Linked DNA regions of Homo sapiens: region 2 is linked to region 1. The links come from fine-mapping of genetic effects on gene expression. A gene starts in region 1. The other region holds a variant in brackets. All regions are shown on one strand. Distances are between the middles of the regions.

Evidence for each region.
Region 2: its variant is fine-mapped to the expression of LINC01366 in uterus (GTEx, PIP 0.95).

Annotation. Positions count from the first base shown.
Region 1 is chr5:170,328,162-170,333,539 of GRCh38, forward strand. It overlaps LINC01366 (long intergenic non-protein coding RNA 1366), which reads left to right and starts at 3,232. Exons shown (of 2, transcript NR_108025.1): 1 at 3,232-3,416; 2 at 4,973-5,378. RefSeq lists enhancers at 2,535-3,734, 3,299-3,468, 4,534-5,378, 5,300-5,349.
Region 2 is chr5:170,376,798-170,382,175 of GRCh38, forward strand. KCNMB1 (potassium calcium-activated channel subfamily M regulatory beta subunit 1) reads right to left here. Exons shown (of 4, transcript NM_004137.4): 4 at 1-2,176. The coding sequence ends at 1,907. It also overlaps a transcript of KCNIP1 not described here. Among named protein-coding and RNA genes, the nearest start is that of KCNMB1, 9.9 kb to the right of the region's middle. The variant C/G (reference allele first, on the strand shown) is at 2,155.

The DNA of each region.
Region 1 (5,378 bases):
GCTAGGCACTGTTCTAAGCATTTGACCTATGTTGTCTCATCTAATCTTTACAACCCTATCAGGGTGTACTATCATTAACATCCCATTTTACTGAGCACAGAGCTCAAACAACTTGCCCATGTCCACACAGCATGAAGCCAGGATTCAAGCCCTGTCCCACACTGTGCTCCTTGCAGAACATCTCCACCTCAAGGTTTTTCATCCACCTCTAACCTACCATGCCCCAAATGGAATTCACAATCCAAATGGAATCCTTTCCCCCAAACTGTTCTCCTTGTATTTCCAGGGGAAGATCCAGGCTTGGTGGAGCCTGAGGATTCTATAATTGGCCAGGAAGGGGCTCTTTAGGAAAAAATAAATAAAAAGAAAACAATGAATACAAGAGTAGGTTTAGGACCTTGATAGTGGATGTGAAAGGGAGGGATTCTCGCACATAACCTTCATTAGCTTCATGGTGAACCCCACCCCATACATTTTGTATTCCAGTGGCTAGCATCTAGTCATTCCAGCAGGGGCATGGAAAATTCTTCTCTTTATATTCCCTCCCTCTTCCCTTCTTCATCCATATGGAACCATGGATAGCACTCTAGTTCTACCTTCCTCAAGTCTCTAGAATCCCTCTTTACCTTTTCACGTACACTATCCTGATTAGCTCAGGTCCTCAACATCCCACACTCGGACCATAGCCATAGTCCACTCTGTCTATTCCTGCCACTTCCTGGACTTTCCCCAACACAGTTCCTGTGCTTAGCAGGGTGACCATCAGAAACATGCATCTCATCAACCCTTCTGTGATGGTCCATTTTCCTCTGACTAGCATCTACATTCCTTAGCCCAGCAGTACCCAGCACAGGTCAATCTTGCCAGCTTTACTTTTCCCTGTGCTCTCCTTTTGTTCCTTTCTTCAACAAATAATTATTGAGGACCTATTCTTGAGTACTATTATGAAGTGCCAATAGTAGGGTAATTGAATGCTAAACACTGAATATGCAGTAGCAATCAAGACCAGATCTTTCACACCTCTTGTCCCATCACACCAAATAGCTTGCAGTTTTTAGACTCTAAGACTGTGTTCAGCTTCTTTCCCTTTTCCTAGGCTGCAGGGAAGCTTTTAAATTCATTGATTACCTGAATAATAACCACTTATCCTTCGTGGATCAGATACAGTGTTATCTCCCATATAGAGCATTTTCTGATCACCCTCCAGCAGCAAAAATGGATCCCTTCCTCATTTCTATCCCAAATGTGCTTTTGAGATCTGATATTCCCTCAGAACACCTAATATACTTTGATGCAACTACTTGACTATTGAGAAGGTCTCCCTCATTTCAAAGCAAACATTTGGATCAAAGAGACATCATTTTATTCATCTCTACATCCTCACTGGAACCTGCCATATAGTAGACACCATACATTCATACATACGTACATTCACCAACTCATTCATCTTCATCCATCCATCCATCTACCCATCCATCCATTCATCTATCTACTCACTAATCCATCTACCTACTCACCCATCCAACCATCCATCTACTCTTTCATCCATCTACCTACCCACTTGTCCATTTAACCATCTACTCATCCATCTACCCACCCACCTGTCCATCCATCTACCATTTTATTCATTTACCTACCCATCCGTCCATCCATCCATCTACTCATCCATCTACCCATCCACCTGTCCATCTACCCACTCACTCATCCGTCTACTCACCCACCTGTTTATCCATCCATCTACCCACCCACCTATCCATCCAACAAATATTTCTGAATGTCCTCAATGTCCCAGCCATTTCTCCAGACTCTTTGGATATAGAGAAGAACAAGAAAGAAGAGGCCTCTGCTCTCACTAGCCCTACATTCTAGTGTCTGTTGCAGGGTCAGTGAGGGGTGGGTAGGGGGTCACAGACTACGGAAATAAACAAAGTAGGTGAGTGAGAAGTACTGTAAAGTAAATTAACAGAGCAATATCCCAGAGGGTACTACTTTAAAAGGAATGGTCAGGTCACCTTACAAGAAGGTGGCCTTTGTGATGAGTCCCAAATGATAAGAAAGGAAGCAGCCAAACAAAGAGAGACAGAAAGTCCTGATGTGGGAATGAGCTTTGTGTGTTTGAGGAACAGAAAAGAACAGAGTAAGCAGAGGAGAGGACAGAGATGAAGGCAGGGAAGTTAGGGAAAGTGTAAGAACTTGGAAAATACAGGAAACTCAGCAACAGCCAGACCTGATTTTGAATCCTTTCTCTAGCATTCATCTCTACACGTATGACCTTAACCAAGTCACCGCACCTTTCTTAGCCCCCATTTCCCCATCATGGAATGGGGACACAAGTACCTATGTCATTGGGCTTAGGGGAGAAAGTTCGGTAAAATGTCTGACACATGATAGATTTTGACAAACATTATTTCCTCTTCTTTTCTTGCTTTAAACATATAATGATGCTGTTACCTTAAAAGTTAGGTTATGCCATTAGAAGGCGCCTTTGTTCTTTGCTCTTGTTCTACCAAAATGAGAAAATGGCAAAAATCGCAGGGTGGGTCTCAGTTCTCCATTTTGTTAATATCCAAGTTGATATTTCCCTTTTGCGACAGTAACAACAACATGCAAACCAAAAACTGAAACAGCTTCAGTTCTGTGCCCTCAGGATCCAGCGTGGGACTCGTGAGAACCCTCCAGAGACAGCCACATTTCGAAGCAAGTGGCACAGGCTTTGCAGAAGGCACACTGGGCCCCTCTCAAAACTCAAGCAGCAAAGATGATGAGAGAGCTGCAGACTTCGGGGCGTGGAGGATGGGACTAAGCCGCAGAGTGCCTTGTCTAACATGTTTTAGGAAGCACCCTTCTCTTTCCCGACTCACATGGGGCAGCTATAATAATTCAGCTTCACGTGGCTGAATTATTTTCTGTTTTCACTTGGTTCTTTTTTTCTTCTCCTTTAAGAAAAAAAAAGTCCAAATAGGCTTTGGGCCACACTGGACTACCTAGTAAGGGGGATAGATGATCTAGATGATTTGAGAGCTGGTTTTCTGAAAAGCCAGGGAGCTCTGGTCTTGAGAAGACTCAGTAGCCAGGAAGCTGAGGAACACACACACACACACACACACACACACACACACACACAAACACACCCCTTCCTGGCTCCAGTTCCGCACCACCCCACACCCCCAACACCGGAAGTAGATTTCTCAATAGGCAGGGCTGGGTATGAGTCACAGGCAATTCCGTTTTGTTTGGGACCATGAGACCTCCCACTCCTGGGGCCAGAAGGAGTTGCTGAGAAGGAGCTGTGGTTCTGACCTTCAGGGGAATTCCCACGTCTGTATGGTGGCTCGTGAAGAGCATGGTTCCTTTTCTCAGCCCTCTTGAGGGGCGAGGATGCTGAGGACTGAAGTCGGTGGGGCTTGATGCATGTGGTGTGTGGATGGTGTGGGGAGGTGGGGAAGGAGGACTAACATGAATGGTGTGAGGTCTTTCAGAGGGGTCTTCCCAAGGTCACATAGTTGACGGGGGGTGAGTACTCACACTCGTGCAAAGGTGGGGGATAGGAAGGGAAACTGAGGCCATTAGTATTTGGCACCATAGCTGGTCTCTGAGGCTTTCAAATGTTCCCCCAGGAGGTTCAGCCTCTGTGGGGAGAAGCCAGGGGAACCCCATGGCACATCCCCAGCCCTGCCTGCTACCCGCCTCTGCCATCTCCCCTTCCCCTGGGCTATGAGGGGAGGTAATGAGACCTGTGACTCATACAGTGCTCTCCTTTTCCCTCCTATCAGCTCAGACTAAGCAGAGAAGTGGGCAGAGCTCTTTCACCAGAGGTGGAGGGGCCTGTTGGGGAGGGGACCCACCAAATCCTTGGGGGTGGTTCTCAGCTCCCCGGAGATAGGGGAGATGAGACCTCAGGAAGGCTCTGATCAGGCGTCTTCTGTTCTCTTTCCTTTCTTGGGTGGGAATGATGCTTCCCACTTTTGTGGTCCACCTGCAGGCCGCCTTTCATCCTTCTTCAAGTCACAGAGAGACAGAGAGGAGGGGACGAAGGACGAGCCATGGGGTTTTGAAAGCAGGCACAGCAGCAGGGGTGCTGCCTCCAGGGGTCTGCTCTGCCAAGAGTTCCTGTCCCAGGTGTCTACAAAAACAGTCAAACTCTATAAAATACTTGGAGATTTATTCTGAGCCAAATATGAGTGACCAATAGCCCGTGACACAGACCTCAGGAGATCCTGCCCAAGGTGGTCAGGTTACAGTTTGGTTTTATATATATTAGGGAGATACAAGAAATAAATCAATACATAGAAAATGTACGTTGGTTTGGTCCGGGAAGGCAGGACAACTCAAAGCAGAGGCTTCAAGTCATAGATACATTCAAAGATTTTCTGATTGACAATTGGTTGAAAAAGTTGTATTATCATCTAAAGACCTAGAATCAACAGAAGAGAATGTCTGGGTTAAGATGAGAGGTTGTGGAGACCAGGGTTCCCATTATGCAGAGGAAGCCCCAGGTAGCAGGCTTCAGAGAGAATAGGTTGTAAATGTTTCTTATCAGAATTAATTCTCTCCTGGAGCACGAAAAGGAAGGGGATTCTCTTCGAAATATAGATTTTCCCCACAAGAGACAGCTTTGCAGGACTATTTTGAGATACAGCAAATAAACATAACTTGGGGCAAAATACTTTGATTTTTTTTTTTCAGGGCCTGCTCTCTGTCATGTGATGCTATACTACAGCCAGGCTGGAATTTGGTGTCTTATTGCTACAAAGAATCAGCTTTGTCAATCCTAAGGTCTGTTTTAATGTTAATGCTGGTCAGTTGTGCCTGAGTTCCAAAAGGGAGCAGGAAATAATGAGGCACGTTCGACCCTCCCTTCCCACCACGGTTTGCACTAGTTTTTCAGGTTAACTTTGGAAGGCTATTGGCCGAGGCGAGGGGTCCATTCAGATGGTTGGGGGACTTAGAATTTTATTTTTGGTTTACACAGGTCACTGAGAGGCTGCCAGAGGGCCATTTTCATGACCAGAGGGATCTGTTCAACACCCTGTGGGTCCCAGCACCTATCTCAGGAAGCAGGGTGCATCTGTCCACCACCAAGTCTCAGGGTGGCTGGGTGAGCGCTCATCAGTCCCAGACAGCAGGTTGGCACAAAACGACACTGCCCACAAAACCACAGGAAGAAGAGAAACTCCGACTGTCTTTCAGCACACAGAAGACACTGTACTGGACCCGGACATTAGGCAGACACCCACGCCTGACTTTCAGGAGAAAAGAGAACATGACTAACGGATATTCTTAGTAGATGGTTTATTAGAAAAGAGAACATCTTCCAGCATGTGTCCTGGGGTGATGGGTGTGGGAAGCACTCAGTCCATAGTCCTGGTCCCTGGCTT
Region 2 (5,378 bases), 49 kb after region 1:
TCTGCACAACAAACTCCCTTGACACAAGTGTACCTATGTAACAAACCTGAACGTGTACCCTGCAACTTAAAATGAAAGTTAAGAAAAAAACACACACACAAAACAAACAAAAAAAACTATAGTTGCCATTTTAAACACCTATGATGTGTCAAACATTCCTTCAGCCCTCCCAACTATCCAGAAAGAGTCCTTCTTTTATAGATGAAAAAACTAAGAATCAAAGAGATGAAATCGGGCAGAGTAGAGACAGGATTCAAACCCAAGATCTGCATCTTGGACTCACAACACTGGAAGAAACTTCAGACACCAGCCTAACTTCACACCCAGCTCAGGACTGGCCCTGCCGAATGGTCACTCACCTGCTCTGAAAATCCTCGCGACAGGACGCTCACTTCCTACACCGGTAGTTCTCTGGCTCGAGGTGTGCCACAGAATCCCCTACGCATTGTTAGAACACAGAACATTGCTACCCCCACCCCGTGCAGGGCTTCTGGCGTGGTGGGGCTGGGACAGGGGCCTGAGAGTGTGCATTTCTCACAAGCTGCCACAGGATCCTGATGCTGCTGGCCCAGGGACCACACTTGGACAGTCATCGTTCTAGGAAAACTTCCTGGAGTGGGAATGGTAAAGGTGATGGCTTCTTCCCATTTTGCCCTTTTCAAATCTGAGATAGGCTTCCCCAGCAGGCTCAGTGCCAGAGTCCATACCCTCAATTTAAATAACAAATCCTCCTCTATATCATGACCTTTCCTCCAGAGGGTTGTTTTTCATTTTTTGTTTTTTGTTTTTTTTTTGAGACGGAGTCTTGTTCTATCACCAGGCTGGAGTGCAGTGGCACAATCTCGGCTCACTGCAAGCTCCGAACCCCGGGTTCACGCCATTCTCCTGCCTCAGCCTCCTGAGTAGCTGGGACCACAGGTGCCCACCACCACGCCTGGCTAATTTTTTGTATTTTTAGTAGAGACGGGGTTTCACCATGTTAGCCAGGATGGTCTTGATCTCCTGACCTCGTGATCCACCAGCCTCGGCCTCCCAAAGTGCTGGGATTACAGGAGTGAGCCACCGCGCCCGGCCCAGAGGGGTTTTTAAGATTGTGTGTTCTGAATGGCCTGTCTCTGACTGGAACCCAACTCCGTCCCCAGACCCACTTCCATCTTTTTCTGTGAGGGGGACACACTCTTTCAACTTTTCCAAAATGGCATCTACCATGGCTTTTCTGATTAAAAGCAAACGAAACACACCCTTCCTATAATCAAAAATTTAGAAAAGCAGCAAAAATAAAAAGGGGATAAGGAAGAAAACAGAAATTAACCACCATCCCACCGCTAAAATTTTGATGAGTTCTCATGTGTTTCCTTGCAGCTGATTGTTGTTTGGCATACATTTATTAATATTGGAATTAAAAATATATATGGCACTTTATATCCTAGAAAATAGTAATACTGTAAATGTGTTCTAGAAATGGGAGCTGCTGTTGCTCTTATTAGAGAATTCAAACAAAGAAGGGAGGCTCGCTGGGGACAGCTTCTGGGGGAGGATGGGTACCGCTTTGAGACAACAGGGAGAACTCAGGCACAGAGGTGACGATCATCGTTCTCTGTGGGGCACATAGTGATGCAGCCGGAAACAGGTATGAGTCAGTTGAGTGGGGACAGGTAATAGAGAGCTAGAACTGGCTGGCCTTATGGCCTCCAAGGCATTGGGGAGCCACTGTACATTCTTGAGCAGGCAATGACTTCACAAAAGGATTTCTCAAAGGTTAGTCCTGCAACAGAAGACAGCGTGGATTGGACTGGAAGAGTGGGAGGGCAGGTGGAGAAGGCATTGTGCTGCAAGTGGGGAGCAGCCCTGGGGGCCCAGCCAGTCCCCTGTGCCCTGACAAGTGGTATGGCATGGATGGATGGCTCTACTTCTGGGCCGCCAGGATGGACAGGTACTGGTTGCTCTTCACCATGGCGATAATGAGGAGGCCACCGGTCAGCAGGAAGGTGGGCCAGAAGAGGGAGAAGAGGAGGGCCTGGGGCCCGTAGAGGCGCTGGAATAGGACGCTGGTTTCGTTCCCCCGAGGTGCGGAGAAGCAGTAGAAGACCTGCTGCTCTTGGAATTTGGCTCTGACCTTCTCCACGTCGGCCCGGGCCGTCTGGTAATTGTCCA[C/G]GCTGCCTGGGATGTAGGAGCACTGTGGGGAGAAACAAGAGCAGCTGTGGGCTTGGAAATCCCCATTTCTTAGCCAAGGGCTTGATATGGAGTAAAGAAAAATACCAGCTTTGTAGTCGGGCCCCTGGATTGGAGTCGGGGCTTTGGTCTAAAGCTTGGCAGGCCATGCGCTGTACAGGTCTGGAGAGCACGCTCTCATTTGTGTCTTGTGTGTGGATGGCGGTGCTGGAGCTGCTCGGGGTACAGGCTACACACCTGGGCGCAGGTCCTACCTTGGAGTCCTGGCTCTGCTTGGATTGGCTGTAGAATTTTTGGCAAATTTCTCACTCTTTCTGAGCCCTGAAGCTTCATCACTTAAATGGGTGAATATCGGTTTCAAAGGATATTATGAAAGAAGGACTTCACACAGAGCTATCTAAGGAAACCAGGGAGGGACACAGGCCAAGTGGGCTGTGTATTTGAAATCGAGATCATGTGCTCAATTGCCTACAGGGCTCATGAAGGTATTGTCAGAGGGTGAAGCAGGCAAAGCAATGAGATGACAGGTGCCCACTGACTCTTGCCTTGGTGCCAGGAAGAATTGCCAGGGTGTGGCAGGGCCTGTCAATAGGGAGAGAGCCAGCTGCCTCCAGACAGGCAGTCACCACTCCCTCCAGGCAATGGATGTCAGGCCATCCAGAAGATCTATAATAGCCAGACCTCCAACACTTTAAGAGAAGTTAGAAACCAGATCACACCTGTAATCCTAACACTTTGGGAAGCCGAAGGGGAAGGATCCCTTGAGCCCAGGAGTTCGAGACTAGCCTAGGCAACATAGCAAGACTTTATCTCTACAAAAAAAGTTAAAAATTATCCAGGTGGGCATGGTGGTGTACCTGTAGTCCCAGCTACACAGGAGACTGAGGTGGGAGGATCACCTGAGCCCAGGAGTTGGAGGCTGCAGTGAGCTATGATCTCGCAACTACACTCCAGGTAAGGCAACAAAGCGAGATCCCATTTCAAAAAAAAAAAAAAAGTAAAATATTAGCTAAATTTAAAATTGAAAACCTTTGCAGTTTCAACCTGTGTACAGCAAACAAACTATGTTGGCAAGCGGGTATTTGACACTGGGATCCAAAGGAAAGAAAGAATGCATTGAAAAGAGTTTTGTGCCAGCAGAGCATGACACACATTTAATTCTGACGTTGATTATTGTTATTAGGAACTTTCTGCCCTGTTCAGATGAGGCCAGCTGGAAAGTGATGCAAAGCAGTCATAAAGCGGAGTTTTATCTGGTTTTATCTCTGTTCTGAGCTGCAAGTGTGGTGCCCCCATCTGCAGCAGAATACCTACAGGGCCCCCATAGCCCAGGTCCCTACCCACTCTGCATCACTGAGGGCGAGACCCAGGAATGTGTGATTCCTTCATGCACTTAATTTTGCCCTAGTGAAATCATGTGCAAGATCAAAATGTGTAAAACTGAGACCCAAATGGCAGGTGTTGAGCCAGATTCCTTGCAGGCCTCGGCCACTCCCTGGATTTATATGAGGTGCCACCCTGGAAGCTGCCTGCCCTGAGGGCATTCACTCCAGCAACACAGAGGAGGGTTGCACTGTAGTTCTCACAGCCTGGGAAATGCAGATGCTGCACTCAGATCTAGGGCCCCAGCCAGCCAGGGAGTAGCTGAGGCTGGGGAGACGCTGGCTCCTCAGGAATCTGGCATTCAGAGCTGTTGGACACTGCCAGGTCCTCAGTAGCATATAATCCAGCATCCTGAGCTGACGGTGAGGGGGCCTGGCCTGAGTCTCTCCAATGCCTCTGACTGTGACCTTGGCTAACCTAGCTCCTTAAATAGCAGTGTGGCTATGGAGTCAGACAGGCCTGAGTTCTGAGCTGTGTGACCTTGGCAACTGCCACAACCTCACTGGGCCTTGTAAAATGGGTTTGTGAGGCTACCTGCCTAGGAGAACTGTCATGGGGATTAAATGAGATGATGCATGTAAAGCACTGAGCACAGAAGCCCAGCACACGATAAGAACTCAAAAAAGTGGAAGATGCTATTATTAATAATAATATGTTTTGACTTATCTATGAAATTGCAACAACAGCTCCTTCTTTACCTTCTTAAAAAGAGGTCTATGGATGAGCTCTGAAGTAGAGGCTTCTGTCCATCCTGGGCCTAGTGTATCCTCTGCCTGCTCAGGGTTCCTCTGGATCTTTTATGCTGGGCCTGTTTGGCAAGACACTGGGCAGGAATTCACTCTTCATGGCCAAACCCAGAAGCCGGGGCCTGAATGCATCCTTTCTCTCCTGTCCTGGGTCCAGCTAAGCCTGAGTTATCTGAATGATCTGAAACCAACCAGCTTTTTCCCAAGCCCTGCAGTGTAAGGTCCCCAGGACAGACAATGGGAGGGAATTTAGAACTCACCTGCTCCAGGCTAAGACTCACAGGAAAAGCTGAGGGCAGACTATGGCCCCTACCTTCAGAGTTGGAGGGTGGGATGAGAGTCTTCTTGGCCCTTCACAGTGATTCCAGAGGACACCCAGCTAGCCTGGAGCCCCAGCCACTTGAACCCCTATGATGGACATAGGCGGAAGGAGCAGCTAGCCCACAACCCAGCTGCTTGGCAAAAACACGAAGGGCATTTCCACTGCTTCCTCCCAGCTCCTGCAGCCTGCTATCAGCACCACACCTGGTCAAGCCTGGGCGGCAGGGGAGAGGACAGCAGTGGCTCCAGCATGTCCTTCCTTCACATCCTGCTGACAGTTCATTCAGGGGATGCTCCTCTGAGCTGGCAATCTCAGGACCAGGGAGGCAGCCTGAAAACCAGCCTGCTCTGGCCCATATCACTCCCGGAGAATGTTACCAGTTATTGAAAATTTGTTTCTTGCATTGGGATAAATCAAGGGCTACTGAATGCCAACGCAGAGGCAGGGGTCATGGGTAGGAGCTGCCTCCAGTGGGCCCTGAGACCTCTCTCCACCGGGTGGGGCCGAGTCATACTAGCGATGACAGAACACCTGACCATCCTGCACTGCCCAGACCCACTTCTCATTGACCTTCAGCACTCTCAAGATCCCCCAGCCTCCACGCCCCATCCCAGGCACCCTGCCCCTTCCCGTCCCATCAGCCATCAAGTCCGGACTGTCAGCATCTCCCCTGCTGCAGGCCACATCTTGGTCGTGAGTGCTTGCTGCGGCCTTGGCTCCTCTGTCTAGTAACTGGACCCACACACCTGTAGGCT